Linked DNA regions of Homo sapiens: regions 2, 3, 4, 5 and 6 are each reported to be linked to region 1. Evidence: microRNA targets listed by miRTarBase, many of them from high-throughput screens and not tested one by one. Region 1 holds a microRNA gene; each other region holds the end of a gene's coding sequence. Distances are between the middles of the regions.
What was found. Region 1 holds the annotated microRNA hsa-miR-4317 (ACAUUGCCAGGGAGUUU, at 2,249-2,265, shown strand). A microRNA usually pairs through its seed, bases 2 to 8, with sites in the 3' UTR of a target mRNA and lowers its output. Matches are read on the target gene's strand: a 7mer-m8 pairs with bases 2 to 8, a 7mer-A1 pairs with bases 2 to 7 and ends in A, and an 8mer does both.

Region 1 (3,103 bases):
CATGTCCAAGTGATCCTCCCATCTCAGCCTCCCGAGTAGCTGGGACTACAGGTACACACCACCACACTCAGCTAATTTTTGTTGTTGTTGTTGTACAGATGGGGTCTCCCCAGCCCAGGCTGGTCTGAAACTCCTGGTCCCAAGCAATCCTCCCACTTCAACCTCCCAAAGTGCTGGGATTATAGGCATGAGCCACTGTGCGCAGCTGGGGCCTTACTTTATGTACCCTGTAGATAGGATAGACAGACAACAAATATGCAAAACAAATGAACAGACAGTGTAATTTCATCAAGTGTTTAGTGATTAAACTAAAACAGACTGATGTGACAGCGAGTCAGGGGGTGCTACTGTGGATAATTTTCACGACTGACAGGAGGAGGTGATGTTTGAAGTGGGACCTACATTAAGAGAAGCAGGAAGCCCTGCAAGGATTTGGGTGCCGTGCTCCAGGTGGGCTGCAGTGAGTGCACAGGTGCTGAGGAGCATTTTGCTGGGCACCTCTGGGGACAGTGGGAGGGCCACTGTTGCCAGTGAGGCGAGCAGGGAGAAAGCAGACTGAGACAGTGGGGTCGGAGAGCTTGAGGGGCTAGACCCAGTCCATATGTGGCCTTGTAGGACTCAGTGACGAGTTTGGAGTTTCCTTAATGTGCTGGGAAGCTACTGGCAACTTGAGCAGGGCAGGGATGAGTTCTTAGCCACAACACTGTAGCCACATGTTTTGGGACACCTCATGTTTTTAGCGTGTCTAAACCTAAACTAGTGCCCTCGCCTGAGTTTGTGCTTTTGCCTATTTCTTGTTGAGTGGCTCTGCTCACATTGCTGCCCCAGTGGAGATTTGACATCCAGGCCAGGCCCTTCTTTCTTTATTATTGCCCATGTCTGTTCTGTCACCAGGTCCTATTGGATTCCACCCCATTCTTTTTGGGTTCTTCTCTATTTCTCATCCTGACTGTTGCAGTTAAGCCATTGTCATCTCATTTACTAAATTGGTATTGACGACCTCCTGTGCCCCAGACGTTATTCCAGGTGCTGGAGATACAGTGACAAAGAGCCCTCTCGGAGGGCTCAAGTAAAGGAACTAGGATGAAAAGTGCTGAGTGTCATGCTAAGGGAAGCGCTGGCTGTGGAAGTGTCCCTCACCTAGCCTGGGATCGGGGTGGTGGTTGCAGGAGGCATCCAAGGAAATGACATTTACACGGAGGTCTGAGGGGCAGCGAGGTGGTGGGAAGGTGGCTCCAGGTAGGAGGTGAGAAGAGAGCGCACAAAGTCAGGTTGTAGCACAGTCTGGCTGGGAAGAGAAGTCGGCTGGTCAGGTGGGGAGCCAGGTCAGGAGGTGCCTCAGAAGCCGTGGCAGCCTGGACTTTATCCTTAGGGCGGGAGAGCCATGGAGGGGCCATAAATGGGGGAGAGAGAGCCAAGCCGTAGAGGCATTTTAGGTCCACATATGGACAGTAAGTTTGGAAGGTATAAAGACTGGAGTTCCTGTATCGACTGGGGCAGATGCAGTGATCTAGGTGGCCGCCAGTGGAAGGCACCTGTGAGTCAGGGTTTGCAGTTCCTGTGTGGACGTCTGAATTAATTCTGCAGATCAGACTGCGTTACACTGCAAGAGCAGCCCGAGTTTCCCAATGCACCAAAGCAGAAGCTTTTTGGAAACCTATATATTTTTTCATACTATTGGGAATTTCTTCAGAATATGAAGGCTTTATCGAATTGTGTCTGAAATGAATTTCATTTAAATACTGAATTAATTGAAAGCTTTGCTTCTGAATATTTTTCCATAGATTTCACGGTGCTTTAGAAATTTCATTTTGCCTCATGTTTTAGTACTGGCAATAACTGCCAGTAATAGAAGTGGCAGTGTTGAGGGAAATGGTGGTGGCGAGTGTGGGATGGTCTCAGTGGGCAGCTTTCTTACGATGAGGAGAGGCGGGGCGTGACTGGTTCTATCGTGTTTTCACTGGGACCAGGACTCACTGTGGAAGGGCAGGAAGTACCACTTAGTGGTGAGAACAGCACGCAGGCTCCAGTTTACCATTCTGGTGATTTGACTTTAATGAAGCCCTTTGGAATTTTGACTGTAATCATGGAAGAGGTCATTTGCTTCTTTATTTGTACAGCTTTTTGTATCCATCTGTCCCACGAATATTTGTTGACACTCACTTCCTGTTAGGCACAATCCCACAAAAGAAATGTGGACTTTGCGGATGAAGTAGACCTCAATGTTGCCTTGCATCTAAAAGGCGAGACATTGCCAGGGAGTTTATTTTGTAGCTCTCTTGATAAAATGTTTTAGCAAACACTAGCGTGCCAGGCTTGGTCCTAAGCCCTTTGCCGGTGTTAACCCATGTAATCCTCGTGACAGCTCTGTGTGCTTGGTGCTGTTGTTATTGGCATTTTACACAAAAAAGAACCAGAGCACAGGGGATAAGTGACTCGCCCAAGTCACAGCTGTTCAGTGGCAGTGACTGGATTTGAACCCAGCCACTGCCACTCCAGAGCTGGATTTTCAGGAAGATGTAGCAGGAGTGTGAAGGGCGGGCATGTACATCTGCTGTTTGTGTGTTCACAGGGGAAATGTGGGCAACCAGGGAGGGCTTTTATTTTACTTGAATTCTTCAGAGACCACTGATACACATGGAAGATGAAAAATTACAACAATGAAGAAAAGTCCTCTCTTAAACCCAAAAATTTTGTTTCTGCTATGAATTTCTAAGACCTTCCTTAAAAAAACCCCAATAATTTAGCTTTGTCAGTATCTTAGGAAACAAAACAAAACAAAATAACACAGTTTTTCCTTTGAGTAATCTGTCACATTCAAGTTTATTATTATTATATTTTAACATTTTAGTTTATGGAAGTGGTAAAGTGGGTTTTTTTTTTTTATCAATTCACTTGACATTTGGGCAGATCTGATGGAGTTTGTAAAGCAAGGCCTGCACTATAATTCCCTTGTACTTTCTGTGGGATTTTCCTACTGTGATTCACTCGAAGATGTATTTTGTACGGTGCATAATCTGTTTAATTGAGAGTTTGCTTTGCCAACACTGGGTTGGCTTCCTTGTTGGCAGGGTACATTTGGGTAGAGCGACTTCTCTTTGCA
Region 2 (3,103 bases), not on the chromosome of region 1:
AGATCTTGAAGGAGAGTGAGTGTTGTCTTTAAGGGTAGAGGCCTCTTGATTGTCTTCAACAGGAAAGCACTAGTTTTTTTGTTTTTTGATTGCTGTTTTTTGTTTTGTTTTTTTTTTTTTTTTTTTTTTTTGAGACAGAGTCTCGCTCTGTCACCCAGGCTGGAGTGCAGTGGCGTGATCTCGGCTCATTGCAAACTCCACCTCCCAGGTTCAAGTGATTCTCATACCTCAGCCTGCCGAGTAGGATTACAGGTGCTCGCCACCACAACCAGCTAATTTTTGTATTTTTAGTAGAGACAGGGTTTCACTGTGTTGGCCAGGCTGGTCTTGAACTCCTGACCTCAAGTGATCTGCCCGCCTCAGCCTCCCAAAGTACTGGGATTACAAGCATGAGCCACCACACCTGGCCAGCATCGGTCCTTAAAGCATGGGACTCTTCTGTAGATTCAGAGGTTCAAAGGAATCTGAGGATTTAAAACTTGAATGTATCAGCCCAGATGTTTCCATCTCTCAGGGTCCTATTTTTCCCCAGTAAGGACTCTGAGCTTGCATAACAGACTGGGCTAAGCTGACAATTTAATATTCTTGGAACTCTGCTATTTTTTTTTTTTTTTTGAGATAGAGTCTCCCTCTGTCACCCAGGCTGGATTGCAGTGACATGATCTCAGCTCACTGCAACCTCCCAGGTTTGAACCTCCTAGGTTCAAGCAATTCTCCTGCTTCAGCCTCCGGAGTAGCTGGGATTATAGATGCCTGTCACCACACCTGGCTAATTTTTGTATTTTTAGTAGAGACAGTGTTTCGCCATGTTGGCCAGGCTGATCTCAAACTCCTGACCTCAGGTGATCCACCTGCCTCAGCCCCCCAAAGCGTTGGGATTGCAGGCGTGAGCCACCACACCCAGCCATCTGCTATTCTCATAAGTCCTGGGCCTGGTCCTCAGCTTTTTAATTCCTTCTATTACAGAAGAGAGTTTCTTAATATGCTGCCAAGGAGGCCCAATGGTTTTCACATTTAGCTTTTAATTAATTGTCCTTAGCCTTTCATTGTCTTTTTCAAAAGCATTAATTAAGTCCAGCAATAGCCAACCAATACCATTGTCTTTATTATTACTACTTGCCAACATTTCTCAGATGCCTAGTACATCACACCCTAGTGCACTCCCTTCCACTGGTATACCATCTTGGTTCATCACCAGTGAAAGTTTTAACAATTGCACTGCTATCTTGTGCCTGTGCTCATCTATGGCCAAGGATGGAGTCCTCATTGCCAGCCAGACAGCAGGCAATCTAGCTCCAAAATCCCATCTTAGCATCCATTTCTTATCCCTCCTGGCACAACCTGTCACAAGTTGTGTTCTCCTAGAAGCAAATTCTGAGATGGAAACTAGCAGAAAATTTCTAAGGGAGCACTCTCAGGATAGAAACCTATGAGCGGAATGGAAGGAAGTAAAATTGAGTAAAGAAGAAACTGAGCTACAAAGTAGTCCCAGCAAAACTGGAGCTGATCCTGTGGGGAGTTTTGAATCTGTATGACTATTCTGAGTTCAGGCCTTGATATGCCCACATCAGCCAGTCACTGGATGCAGGCTGCCCTGCAAAGCAGCATGACCTTGGGCAAGGTGGCTCTCTCCTGAGGAGATTAATTTGAGTAAGTACTCAGTTCTGGAGCTGGGATCTGGACAGTACAGAACAGAATCCAGGATGGTGATGTAAGGGGGCTTTTCAGAACTAAGGGGAACAGAGATGGAACTATCTTTCAGGTGAGGAAGTGCTTTGAGATATATAACCCTCTTGCTAAGGCATCATTGCTTTCTTCATTTGCTAGTTAGTATGATTTGATTCTGGTTACAAAACTTGTGTTTACTGTAGAATACGTTTAAAGTTGTTTTGTTGATAAGACTTCTGGAGAAACGTCTGGCCAAAAATAACTGTTTCCTGGGTTTAGAACAACAGATCCGAGACAGCTTAACCTTTGGTTATATTTCTGCTTTAATATATAGTAACATTTGAAAATACACAGATATCCAGGAAAAAAAGGTAAAGCAGTATGAGGTATTGACAGCACAACTGTGTTTTAATTTGGGAGTTAATTTGGGGTGTTATGTAACAGCAATCATACTTGTAGACAAACACATCCACTAGCTCTGCAAACACATTCAAAGGTAATAGTATATAGTACACTCCACCCTGTAAAATATGTCAAATACCCCCACTCTACAAATTCACTGTGTTTCATTATTTTTTTTTTTGTTTTTATAAGAAAAGGGGCATATCATTATAATTCACAATCCAAGTCAGAGTCTTAATTTAGGTATGAAATATTACCTGCCAATTTGCTTCTCAAGCTACTTTAAAAATATATATATATTCTTTAAAGCCATTTTATGGCCATGGGAATCTAATTAATTTCATAATGATGTTGGTTGAACATGATACCAAAAAATGCAGGTATTTTCAAGAACAATAAAATAGATAACAGCATTAAAGCATAATCCTTTAAGAATTCATGAGAAAAAAAAGGATGATAAAACTTAAGCTTCTTTTTCAGATGTTTAAAAATTTCTATAAAATTCTTTGTCCCAAGATTAATCATATAACCATGGTACATAAAATATGCTAACTACATTGCCTGGTGTCAAGGTGGGAAAATCCTCTTTTATAACATAAAATCCTCTTCTAATCCATGTTGACCCAAGTCCTGGCTGTCTGAGGGCAGATTCCTGTCAAGAGACCTAAGGTTGTCATGGAAAGCATCACTTTCGTCTACTAGTTGGTAATCCTGTTCCATTTCCGTTAGGAAGCCACTCCCAGATCCTGATCCAGAGCCGGAGCCGGAGCCGAAGCCTGATCCAGAGTAGTCCTCAGAAAGTGGGAAGATACGATTCAAGTCCTGGATTCTCGTCTTTCTGAAGTATGAAAGAAAAATGGGAAAAAAACCAGTGGAGTTTGATATGTGGGAAAGATAATTATAATAGTTTTTTTAATATAAGGAGATAAATACAGCCATCTAGTTGCTCAAATTAAGAGATTTAAAAGCTTCCCAATTATTCAATGTTTTAAAATCAACAAAAAAACAGGTCAAATGTTCCTATGTGTTTGCC
Region 3 (3,103 bases), 17 Mb from region 1:
CCCAGAATTAAAAATAAAAAAAATTTAAATTAAAAAAGTAGAGACTCTTCAAAGTGAGAAGGTATGTCAGGCAGCTACTATTATTTTTCCTCCAAATTAATAAGTGTAAGGTACCTGTTTAATCAGCTGGAGGTTAGAAAAAAAATAATATAAATATTTTTCATGGAAACAAACAAGACAAAACAACAACAACAAAAGTAAGTTGAAAGCCATATGTGTTAAGGTCACTCTTAGCATTTTTACCTTACATGACAAGCAGAGACCAGGAAAAGACAAGGACATGAATTTAAGGTACTCAAGTTCCAAATACACGAATCCATTGCTAGTTGTTTCTTTTTCTCTCTTTTCTCAACAAGTTGGGGAACACATGCAGAGGCAACAACAGCCACCGACTGAGTTGACTATATTCTCCATGGGGCTGAGTATGGACAAGGCGTATTTCCCGGACGCCATGGGCAGGGGGTCTCCATCAATGACGTGGATATTCAACACTACAGGGCCTGGCTCCCTGCTTGCGGAGGACTCATGGGTCACCCTGAATGGCCCAAACTCTCTGATACCTGGCAGAGTGGTAAGGTATTTGAAACATCTATTAGGAACAGAAATATTTATAGTTAGTCATTATTTTCTTAAACCTTCTTGGTGGGTTCAGAAACAAGTGACCATTTTGTGTAAATTCATTTATTTTGGAGCAATGAGAACACATGGACATAGGGAGGGGAACATCACACACCAGGGCCTGTCAGGGGATGGAGGGCTAGGGGAGGGATAACATTAGGGGAAATACCTAATGTAGGTGACAGGTTGATGGGTGCAGCAAACCACCATGGCACGTGCATACCTATGTAACAAACCTGCACATTCTGCACGTGTACCCCAGAACTTAAAGTATAATAATAAAAAAAAGAAAAAAGAAGTTCATTTATTTTGACTCCTACAAAGGCAAGGAATAGGGTTTTTGTTGTTGTTGTTGTTTTTGAGACTGTCTCGCTCTGTTGCCCAGGCTGGAGTGCAGTGGCGTAATTTTGGCTCACTGCAACCTCCGCCTCCCAGGTTCAAGCAATTCTCCTACCTCAGCCTCCTAAGTAGCTGGGACTACAGGCACACAACACCACATCAGGCTAATTTTTTTGTAGTTTTAGTAGAGACAGGGTTTCACCATGTTGGCCAGGTTTGTCTTGAACTCCCGACCTCAGGTGATCTGCTTACTTCGGCCTCCCAAAGTGCTGGGATTATAGGCGTGAGCCACTGCGCCTGACCAGGAATAGGGTTTTAATACAATTTTTCATCTGGCCTGAAAAATATACTTCAGTGTTCAATGATTTGAAATCTCTGAGATATCAGGGAATGAAAGGGATTAAAAGCTTTAAGAAATATAAATATAAATGTGTATGTGTGTGTGTATACATATACTATTTTTTTTTTTTTTGCCCAGGGAAGACATCTGTCAGTGCTCATAAACCCTGTTTCCTCTGGGGATAAGTTAGTACCAGCTTAACCTGAGGGTGGGCAAAAAAAGGACATGCAGAATTCAACGCAACACACATCCTGACAAGTTTATAAGGACCACGAGAAGTTTAGAGGCAGGAAATAAATAGTAACACCAACCATAAAAAGGCTGTCACTCACTCTAGAGTTTAAAATGCTCGTACGCAGGTGGCGGTGGGCCTTAGGCAAGCCAGCATGACAGCAAAGAAAGGACGGACCCAGAGGAGACTCCAAGGATGTAAAAACATGAATGAAACAAAACATACAACCAAGCCTCACCACAAAAATGACAACCGTGTGAGGTAATGCATTTGTGAGCTAGATTTAACCATTCCCAAAGCATTGTGTTGTGCGTGATAAATGCGCACTGTTACGTCTGTCAATTTAAAAATAAAAATGAGAAAGGCCGGGTGCAGTGGCTCATGCCTGTAATCTCAATACTTTGAGGCCAAGGTGGGAGGATTGCTTGAGCCCAGGAGTTTGAGACCAGCCTGGCCAACACAGTGAGATCCCCATCTCTAAAATAATAAAAATAGAAAAAATGAGACGGGTCTGGTGGTGCACATCAGCTACTGTGGATGCTGAGGCAGGAGGATGGCTTGATCCTAGGAGGTCAAGGCTGTAGCGAGCTGTGATCGCACCACTGTGCTTCAGCCTAGGCGATAGAGTGAGGCCTTGTCTCTAAAAAATAATAATAAATAAAAATTTAAAATTTTAAAAATGAAAAAAAAAAAAGACAACCAAACCCCTTAGGCCCACTACCTTGCACTGAAAGCAGTGTTTGGGAGAGAGCATGTGGCATCCAGAGGTGTGAAGCTCAGTCGAGGCGAGCAGAGCCAGCCCATGAAATCCTGTACTTCCTGTTTCTGCAGAACCAGCTACAGCACGGTTGAGAGAGGTTCTCCAAATGGGAAGATGTAACAGACCGCTCCTCTGCAGTGACCTGCAGACCCCCAGAAAGGGTGCTCCTTGAAGCACCAGGGCCTCGGCCTCATCAGCCACCACCACATTCACTTGGGTGAGGGTGATGGCACTGCCCACCTGGCCTCACTGTCCTTGCATTCCTCTTTCTGACACATCCAACAGGGAGCTATGAGACCAGGGGCTCGTACACAGGTGTACAAGCTGTTCTCCCGCAGCAGCCTGTGAGTCTTTCTCTTGACCGTCTTGTTCAGGAGCTCTTCCGCTCTGAGAAAACCAGCAAGGCCTCTCCAAGCGCACCGAGCAGGAGGCTGCAAACAACAGCAGAAGGTCAGCTCTCCACTCCCCCGGGACCCCTGAGCTGCCTGGCGCCCACATACGCAGGGCAAGGGGTGCTTCCCCTCATCCTGCAACTGAGACTCATCACCAGCCCGAACTGCCATGCTTCCAGGTCAAGCCCAGGAATCGCTCCTATCCCTCAGGGCAGACCTCAGGTACACATGGGAGGTGAGAAGGCAGGGAGGCGGGCTCGATACCTTCCCTTGGGGAAGAAGGTGAAGCGTCCCACACATCCTGACCAGGTGAGGATGATGCACTGGGTTAGTGCTCTCTGGCAGAAACACAGACTTCTGGCAGGAGAGATCCCATAGAGGCCTCTGGTGCTGTTGGCAAATTGGGCTGATGGATAGGAAAT
Region 4 (3,103 bases), not on the chromosome of region 1:
GAACGGTAACTGGGGCACAGCCCCACTTTAGTGTATCTTGTTCCTTCCCCAGGGATCTAATCCTAGCTTGTTTACTGTGTGTGATCCCAGCCTTGTGCTCTCCCTGCCAGGTCATGAGGTGGTTTTGGACTGTGGTTTCCAGTCTGACCCAGGAGGAGTTGGCTCGGCTACTTCAGTTCACAACAGGCTCCTCTCAGCTACCACCTGGAGGCTTTGCCGCCCTCTGTCCCTCATTTCAGATTATTGCCGCTCCGACCCATAGCACGCTGCCTACTGCACACACATGGTAGGTATCTGCCCGCCTGATGCATGCCCAGTGTTTTTGGTGGTATGAGTTAATCACTTCTCCCTTGCCCTTCCAGTTTTAACCAGCTGTGCCTCCCTACATATGACTCCTATGAAGAGGTGCACAGGATGCTGCAGCTGGCCATCAGCGAGGGTTGCGAGGGCTTTGGCATGCTCTGACCACTCTCCTGTCATCCAGTTGGCTCCCATGCTCTCTGGAGCTTCTGGGCGCAAGTTACAGACATCATAACCACTGATCCTAACACACATAACCATCAGCCAGAAGATGCCGCATGCTCCCCTGTGTCTGGAGGATTTTGTCACCTACAAGCCTTGTCTTTACCTCACCTGCTCCCTGCCCATATCTACCACAGGCCACTTTGGCATGGTATGTAAGCTGAGCTCTTCATTCTGTCATGAGAAGAGGACCATGCTGCTATCATTTATTTGGTCCTTTGAAGATCTCAGTAGCTGAGGGAGATGGCACACGGGGCTCAGCCCTGTTGGGAAACTGGTGTGGAGACCCTTAAATCCACACTGTGCTCCAAAACTCCCTCTGCTGATACTCCTTGGAGACACCCTCTTTGGCCCTCACTACTTGACCAGACTGGTACTTGAGTCCTTCTCATGGGTGGGGTGATTGCCTCTTCTCATCAGGAGCCAGGAGAGAGGGGGACAGATAGGAGGTGGCCCATAGGAGCAGTCCCGCTGCACAATGGTAGGCATAGGCCATGGCACTGGACTGCCTCTAAGGACTGCTAAAAAGAATATTTTTTTGTGGTGTCAGAACTGGAAAAAGCACTTTCCCTTCGGGCATTTCTGGAAATGATTATTAATCCACAAAGAAGAACTCTGTAAGCTTTTTCTTGAATTGTAGCCAGTGAGAAAAGCAGATAGACTGAAGAATATGAAGGATAGCTGAGCTGTAGCCTCCAGAGTGGGGCATGCCTAGGCATATGGCTGGCTTGGAGACTACTGATGCTTTTCCCTGAGTTTGTTATTGGCACTGAAGTATGGCCGGCTTGGGCCACTGACTTCCCCATTATGTAGTCTGCTAAAAGCTGGGGATCCTTTAGCATTCTACTGAAGAAAATTTTGTAGCAAAAGATTAGAACAGTAAGAATAGTATGCCAGCAATCCCTGATTCTCTCTCTGCTTGGTGTTCTCTGGCAGCACTAAGACAAAGGAACAGGGACTAGGAGTTTACGTGCTTATCACAGGTCCTTGGCGTCAGGACACTAGGGATGAACATGGAGGTGATATGTTACACAGTAAACACCTGCCAACCCCTGTACTCCCCTTTGCTCCATCAGTTATCAGGAAGGAGAACTAAGGAGGGAGGAAGCTTATTAGGTTCACTGTTGAATGATGATTGAAGAGTACCTGCTGCTGTATCTTGGAAGATGACAACATCCTTTTTCATTACTGTTTGATTGAAAATAATTTCAAGATTCAAAATCTCATTGACTTCCCAAATTTGTGTTTTTAAGAAGGCTTTGCTGCAAGCTACCATTCCCAATGGGGCAGTCAACTCTGAGAATATTACAAGCCATCTTTATTGCCAAAACCAGCAAGTACACAGAGTCCTGAAACAAGGCAGGACTTTGGCAATGCCTTGGCCTCCTGGAAGCATGTCTGAGCCCTCCTGTTCGCAGGGATCATGAGGAACAAGCCCTCCTGAGCTGCTACAGTTCCTGCCTGACCTCAGTCTTTCGCAGTCATCATTTGTCCTTTCTTGGCACATGGGTGCTGACCTCACTCATCCTTGGGGTCCGGGATCCAGCATCAGGGTCTCTATACCCCAGGATCCTCCATGCCACATGGTCACTGCTCTCCTCAGGGACCAGGACAAGGTGCTGCTGCTTGCCCAAATGTTTTCCCATGGGATATGTACCGGAAGGTTTATCACCACCCTGGGAAACATAATGCTGCCCCTTGGGCCCAGAAAGGGGTTTCCAGCTGGGGGCACGTGGACTGGTTCTGCTGTTTTTGGCAGTCGCTTTTCTGAATTCTCCCCTCCGGCAGCCTTCCAGAGACTGATCCTGGAGATTGAGTTGATTGTCTTGGCTAGACCTGTCATTTTAAGCTCTAGTCATAGCACTTTTTCAGAGCATCTTAGGCACCATTGCAACCCAACCAGGGAAGCTGCATCCCTGTGGTGGTCCTTAGGCACCAGTCTTTGTTAAACAAAACCCTTTGGCACTATTGTGGTTTTCTATTCTCTGTCTGAACTCTATTCAAAAGTATCTTTGCTCTCTTGGGCCTTTTCTTTTACTGTTTTGTTTTTTTTTTTTCTAATCCTGCTTTCATACTAGCCAGTGTGGGGAAAAGGTACAATATGTCAAAGAGATGAGAGAGTGTTATTTCTTGGGCAATTTTCTATTAGTGTTTCTTATTTTGGCCAGTTCTTTTATTTATGTCCTTGTGACCCAGGTACTTGGGGGGCCAGCTACCCTTCTGGCCTTTTAGCGTCTTTGAAGGAGACCAGACATGAGTGAATACCTAGGAGAGTGTCAGCATGTTTCTGGAAAATTGGCAGAGACCAAGCCCTGCTGCAGATTCGTCAGGCCAGGTGAAAGGGCCAGGCAGTTGCAGCTGATGATGTAAATATTTTGTACAGTAGATAAATAAATGTTTAAAAGAACTAAGGAGTGAGTGGCTGCTTTAAATGGAGATTCATGGCTTGACTGGAAGGTGGGGAAGGAAAAGATTTGGAAATGATTTTGCATTTCCCCAGGAATTCCTCCTGAAGTGGTCGGCTCGGGGTAGAGTGTACACCTGGAGTCCTGGCCTGTCCCACTCTTGCCCTTTCACCCTT
Region 5 (3,103 bases), not on the chromosome of region 1:
TCTTGGTGGATGCTTGTGAGCCATTTTCTGTGTTTCCTTGCCCAGACCCTGCTGTCTGAATTGCATCCCCATTCTAACCCTGGCTCTTCTTTGCAGCTCCAGATCCTGTTTGCGGGGGAAGCCACACATCGCACGTTTTACTCCACGACGCACGGGGCTCTGCTGTCGGGATGGAGGGAGGCCGACCGCCTCCTCAGTCTGTGGGCCCCGCAGGTGCAGCAGCCCAGGCCCAGGCTCTAGCTGGGCCCAGCCTACTCTGTTCCACCCGTGTCGGGGGTAGGCTGGGACCCTCATTTCTTCTGACAGATTTCAGTCTGGCTTGAAATTTGGGGATGTTAATGAGGGTCCTCTGGTTTTTGGTAACCAGGGCCACCTTCTCAGTTCTTGTGTCTGTTATTGGAGTCTGGCCAGGGTTGACTTGAGCTGAGACACCAGATGCTCACGGAGATGCTGGACACATAAAGCAAGTTACAGCCACAGCTCCCAGAGCCATCTTTCCTGCCTTGAGGCTGTCCTGTCCTTCCTGCCTTGGGGCTCCAGCATCTGCTGCTGTTGTCTTTGTCTTGCTCCGGGCCCAGGTTGCACAGGGCCCTGTGTCTCCAATCCCCACAACCACACATGGCCCCACACTCTGGGTTCCCTGAACTCTGGGTCCTGTAGTTGCTTCTCGTGCCCCTGCATTCTCGTGGCTGCTGCCTGGGATGACAGCATAGCTGACAACCCTCCTCTTGCTCATCAACTGATGCTGCATCAGGCGCCCACTTCACAGGTTCGCAGGGCACTGGGGAGATGAGGGGTGCCCTGCCCTGCCCTGAGGCCGGGGGTTTTCTGGAGGAAGTGAATACATAATAAGGCCTGAAAAGAGAAACGGTGCCCAGCCCATGGGAGCCAGGGAGTGTGTGGGGCGTGGGCAGTGCTGGGGTGAGTGTGCTGGGTGCTGGGGGGTGTTGGGGTGGGGGCAGTGCTGGGGTGCTGGGGGGTGTTGGGGTGTGGGTAGTGTTGGGTGCTGGGGGGTGTTGGGGTGAGTGTGCTGGGTGCCGGGGGATGTTGGGGTGTGGGCAGTGCTGGGGTACCACGTGGTATTGGGGTGAATGTGCTGGGAGTCCAGGCCCCTCTCCGGCCCCTCCACCCCAGCCTGGATCTGCAGGGCTCCTCTCTTCTCACCCTCTGGTCTCTGTTCAAATTGCCCCTCCTAGGATGTTCCCTGACCCCACCCTCCCGAGCCCCAGCCTCCCTCTGTAGCCAGCAGCCCCACCTGCATTTGCTGTGTCACCAGACTGTTCTCTCTGGGGACACCTGCCCATCAGACGCCTGGGAGAGAAATTCAGATTCCACAGGGTTTTATTGTGGTTTTGTGCTCCTAGGACCATGAGGGAATGCAGCTTCCTTAAAGTACAAAAATCTTTATCATTGACATTTAGGGTTTCATCAATTCTGTATCCCAGGGAGAAAGGCAGCAAGACCCAGGCTGCCCCCTCTGGGTGTGAGGGACCGGCTTGGTGAGGAGGGGGCTTGGGGGCATTGACCTAGCAGGAGGCCCTGACTGCCCCCACTCAGCCCAGAAACCACCTGGGAGGCTTCTGTCTTCCACGGAGGGGCCACTCTCTCATGCCCAAAAATATTTACAGCTAGGCGTTAGGGTATTAGGTGGTTTAAGAACATCAGAACCATGGCAATATTTTTGTACTTAGAATTTGAGCATGTTTGGTATTTTCAGTAGCTTGTTTAAAAAATTCCAGTAGAGGCTGGGTGCCATGGCTCATGCCTGTAATTCCAGCACTTTGGGAGGCTGAGGTGGGCAGATCACCTGAGGTCAGAGTTCGAGACTAGCCTGGCCAACATGGTGAAACCCCATCTCTACTAAAAATACAAAAAAAGTAGCCGGGCGTGGTGGTGCGCACCTGTAGTCCCAGCTACTCAGGAGGCTAAGGCAGGAGAACTGCTTGAACCCCGGGAGGCGGAGGTTGCAGTGAGCCAAGATCACGCCACTGCACTCCAGCCTGGCGACAGAGCGAGACTCCGTCTCAAAAATAAAAATTCCGGTAGAGTAATACTCTTGTAACGCAGTGTGCAATTGAGCAGTTGCTGACTGCTGATTTAGAGTTGAAATCCGACTATATTTATGTCTAGTCTTGGACAGTGGAGAATATTTCAGCCTCATTAATTAATCGGTTTAATTTAGCAGAACTGCAGTCAGTATTTGGAAACAGTTTGTTATATTAAACCCTGAAGTACTTGAGGCTGCGCGCGGTGGCTCATGCCTGTAATCCCAGCATTTTGGGAGGCCGAGACAGGTAGATCACTTGAGGTCAGGAGTTGGAGACCAGCCTGGCCAACATGGTGGAACTCCATCTCTACTAAAAATACAAAATCAGCCGGCGTGGTGGCAGGCGCCAGTAATCCCAGCTACTCCGGAGGCTGAGGTGGGAGAATCCCTTGAACTCAGGAGTTGGAGGTTGCAATGAGCGAGATCGTGCCACTGCACTCTTGGGCAACAGAGCGGAGACTCCGTCTCAAACAAAACAAAACAAACAAAAACCCTGAAGTACTTAAAAAGAAAATGAAGAGATTACATTTATAAGGTAAATTTAAAGTATTTGAGAGATTTTAACCAAATTGTAAAAAGAGATTGCTAAATTTTTACACTTATACTCAGGATATGCTTAAGGGAGAACGATGATTTTTAATATTTAATGAATGTTAATAAATCTGCGAATTACTTAAACCCACAAAACCCAGGAACCTCCCCGTCCCCCCGGGTCTCCTCGCAGTCCCGCCCCGACGCTCGACCCACCATTCGTCCCTCCCTCTGGGCCCGGGCCCCGCCCACTCCGGGCTTCGCCGGAGGCGGAGGCAACGTCGTGCGCACGCGCAGGCCGTGGTGCGGCCCCTTGGAGCGCCGGAAGCCCGCAGTGCCGGAGGCCCGCAGCGCCGGAACCTCAGAGGCGGGTCGCAGCGGCGCAGAGGAGGTCAGCTGCGGGAGCGTTTCCGGGGACGGTGCCGCCATGAGATTGACCCCGCGCGCGCTGTGCAGCGCCGCCCAGGCCGCCTGGCGGGAGAACTTCCCCCTGTGCGGTCGCGACGTGGCGCGCTGGTTCCCGGG
Region 6 (3,103 bases), not on the chromosome of region 1:
ACTATTTCAATGGTAGGAGTTTTCAGAACTGCCTCAGTAATCAGAATGAAAATATAAGGATAATCCAAAACCAGTTCCACAATCCACTGGAATTCTAATAGTCCTTGTGACTTTACCTCTATCTGGGAGGCATTAGCCTACATCACACAACACAGTGGCTGCTCTTCTGGTGATGGTTATGGAAGAGTTTAGAAATGAGTCTCAGCCTTCATTATTTCCAACTGACAAATCTTACTAAGAGCAACTAATGAATCAATCAGCAAATGAGAAACATGGGAGACATTAAAAAAAAAGATTTGAAAACCTCAAGATTAAACTTTCCAAGAATATCATTTGTCGAGCCTTAAGTCATTCAGTGACATAAAGGGCCTAAAAGACATGATGTTTCCCCTAGATGTATTTCCCTTCCCCTTTGACAATAATTCTACAACAAGTATTCTAATTTAACTAATATACCCATTTTTTTTTTAAATGAAAAAAGCCTGAGGGAGATGAGATATTAACCTTTAGTTCTGATAGGTTTCAAACCCTCCTGACCAGGTTTTAGGATGAGGTGAGAACAGTGGCAGAGAGATAAAGGACAAAAAGAAGAGATGAACAAAACTGCTACTTCTCACCTCCCTCCAGGGTTCATTCAGAAAAATGTATTAAAGGTCATGAGCAATCTGTGAAACAGAAAATAAAACTTTCTGATAAGGAAAGCTGCTCAATATTGGGATGGGCTGAATCTCTTTCCTAGATACTCTTGTTAAGTATGAATTTTTATCTGAATGACTTCTAATTCCTCCTAGTAATTCCAGAATCTAAATATATATAATTTAGGAACAGACAATATATTCTGGATTTTGTGTAACTCTCAATGAATTTAGCAATGTGACTACAGGCAATTACCTTAACAATTCCATCTATTAAATGTTATCTTGCATTACTTAAAAGTATTTGTATAGAAGTAAACAAAGCTTAAAGAACTGCATATGAAAATACTATATAATATTAAATTCTTCTTTTTCTTGACAGGGTTTGTCTTCAGTATTGGGAGAGTTTCAAATCCCCTAGACTAAATGCATGTTCTCCACTTTCATCAATGCTTTTCTTCATAAAGTTATAATTTCATTTTGCTATACCCTTGAAATTTAAAAAAATGTCTGATAAAGTGTAAAAAGCTAAGGGTATGTGATTTTCAATATTATAAACCTAAAAATACTTCAGTTTTTAAATGTTATAAGTTTATTTTGCCTACTCTTAATCCAAATCTATTTTGACCTTCTTTTCTACTGCTTACCCCCCAAACCACTAAAAGGCACAGCAGTGATCATGAATGGTGAGTGAGTCAGGCCATAAGATTGCTTCCTCAGTACGGATACTCTAGGCCATGTTGAATTGAGGGTGGAGAATGAATAGCGTGGTTTTCCTTATCCTGTGAAACTCAGGGGGGATGCAAAATGAGCAAAGTCATCTTAAAGGTGTTTCCTTTCCATTTAGCTTATAAATAAAACAGAGTTTAAGTGTGAGAACAGCAGAGCAGAACAAGGAGGCCTCCAATTTGTTGTGGGCTTTTGCAAGCATGGCATGAAGCTGCTAAAGGCTAGATATTTCAGAGCATGTACTGTACTCCAAACCTACCACTCCCTAACAGCTTCAGCTTCGTGCCATCCACAATCCTAGTGATAAAGGAAAAGGTGTTGAAGTAAGGAAACCAATAATATCCAAAGTTGTTTGCTTTTTAAATAGCTTTTAAAGTATCTGTCTATCTGCCCCATACAAAGTCATTCCCATAATCTAGGCAGAAATGGGAGTATGTTGGCATGGCCAACAAAAACTACGAACATATAGTAAAAAGGCAATGCAGATTATGTAACATGTAATTACAGTTAGGCTTAACAAACATGAACTTCAAGTGGTGTATTTTTCCAATGCTAAAAAGCAAGGCCTTTAAAATTCCATTATCTTAGGATGTTTTTAAATGATTACTTTAAATGTGATTATTTCCTAAACCACACAAGAGTAAAATAGAGCATTTATTGATGGAATAACAAAAGTGCTTTTCTTAAATATTCTTCAAAATACATTTGTACAACTTACAATAATATATCCAAAATAACTGTATATACAAAACATTACCTAGTTTTAATGTATGTGCTTTTTTCCCCAAAAATTACAAAGTAACTTCTTTTTTTTTTGGCAAAGTTCAACCTTAACAGAGGTGACAATTTTAAAGGTTGGTTTAAGAAAATAGAACCTGAGGGAAATTGACACGCAAGAGTCAATGACAAGCAAGAGATTTGGAGGAATATTTTTAGTTTGTTAAATTAAAAATGTTTTTTAGAGTGATACTTTTCACATTACAAAAATAAACCAAAATGAAGAAAAGGTCACTGTAAAATGATGGAAAAAGGATCTGTAGATTTGCTTTTAGTATTTCAAATAGCCAACAATGCATGTCAGAAAATGAATGCAAGATCACAACAGTCTTGTATTTACTTTGTATTTGAAGAAGATAGTGAAATAAGTGGCCACATTCTATTTTCTTTTAATTGCTATTAATATGGTTGATCTGATTGGCTCTTCGATGAATTTCATCCAAGAAGTTCTCCAGTTGTTCTATTAGCATTCGTTTTTTAAACCTGTATGAAAAAATAAATAGTACTCTCAATTACTTTTTAATGAATAGTATATATCAGTATAATTTTTTTAAGAAAGGAGAGAAAATTTTGGGAAGATTTTTCAAAGTGAAATGAAAATAGAAAAATCAATACTACGACAATATAAAATATGTTGAAAGATTAGCAAATTATTATCCTAGTACAGTATTATAGTTTGTCCCTAAAACACTCTAGGGCTAAACAATGGGAAAGAGGTTGTTCCTTCCACAACCGAAAAGAAAAAGGAAAAAACAAACAAAAAAACAAAAAACTAATATATTCAAAATATATTCAAGGGCTGCAAACACTCTAGTGAAATTTGGGCTCCCCAAGCAAATACTTCAATAGCTTCTTCTCATGCTCTTTGTAAGCTGAATATTGAAAGGAATGTGAACAAAGTATGAATATAATCTCCCACAAAATGGAAGAAGAAATGAAAATTGGTCAGCAGCATTTAAAAA

Region 2: miRTarBase lists SRGN as a target of hsa-miR-4317. Seed matches in the 3' UTR shown: 7mer-m8 at 2,626-2,632.
Region 3: miRTarBase lists SLC35D4 as a target of hsa-miR-4317. The part of its 3' UTR that is shown has no 7-base or 8-base seed match.
Region 4: the mRNA of AREL1 is a reported target of hsa-miR-4317. Seed matches in the 3' UTR shown: 7mer-m8 at 1,892-1,898.
Region 5: the mRNA of PAOX is a reported target of hsa-miR-4317. The part of its 3' UTR that is shown has no 7-base or 8-base seed match.
Region 6: the mRNA of INTS6 is a reported target of hsa-miR-4317. The part of its 3' UTR that is shown has no 7-base or 8-base seed match.

What each region holds. Positions count from the first base shown.
Region 1 is chr18:6,373,561-6,376,663 of GRCh38, reverse strand. It overlaps MIR4317 (microRNA 4317), which reads left to right and starts at 2,239; the gene lies at 2,239-2,303. The region is part of intron 1 of L3MBTL4 (L3MBTL histone methyl-lysine binding protein 4); the gene reads left to right.
Region 2 is chr10:69,103,676-69,106,778 of GRCh38, reverse strand. It overlaps SRGN (serglycin), which reads right to left. Exons shown (of 3, transcript NM_002727.4): 3 at 1,974-2,908. The coding sequence ends at 2,659. Among named protein-coding and RNA genes, the nearest start is that of SRGN, 17 kb to the right of the region's middle.
Region 3 is chr18:23,295,348-23,298,450 of GRCh38, forward strand. It overlaps SLC35D4 (solute carrier family 35 member D4), which reads right to left. Exons shown (of 15, transcript NM_032933.6): 15 at 666-2,720. The coding sequence ends at 2,660. Among named protein-coding and RNA genes, the nearest start is that of SLC35D4, 140 kb to the right of the region's middle.
Region 4 is chr14:74,661,082-74,664,184 of GRCh38, reverse strand. It overlaps AREL1 (apoptosis resistant E3 ubiquitin protein ligase 1), which reads left to right. Exons shown (of 20, transcript NM_001039479.2): 19 at 111-286; 20 at 363-2,929. The coding sequence ends at 465. Among named protein-coding and RNA genes, the nearest start is that of LTBP2, 50 kb to the right of the region's middle.
Region 5 is chr10:133,391,216-133,394,318 of GRCh38, forward strand. It overlaps PAOX (polyamine oxidase), which reads left to right. Exons shown (of 7, transcript NM_152911.4): 7 at 97-479. The coding sequence ends at 240. It overlaps MTG1 (mitochondrial ribosome associated GTPase 1), which reads left to right and starts at 2,942. Exons shown (of 11, transcript NM_138384.4): 1 at 2,942-3,103. The coding sequence starts at 3,006. RefSeq lists a silencer at 2,734-3,083.
Region 6 is chr13:51,363,222-51,366,324 of GRCh38, forward strand. It overlaps INTS6 (integrator complex subunit 6), which reads right to left. Exons shown (of 18, transcript NM_012141.3): 18 at 1-2,624. The coding sequence ends at 2,531. It overlaps SERPINE3 (serpin family E member 3), which reads left to right. Exons shown (of 10, transcript NM_001386375.1): 10 at 1,018-1,514. The coding sequence ends at 1,061. Among named protein-coding and RNA genes, the nearest start is that of MIR5693, 16 kb to the left of the region's middle.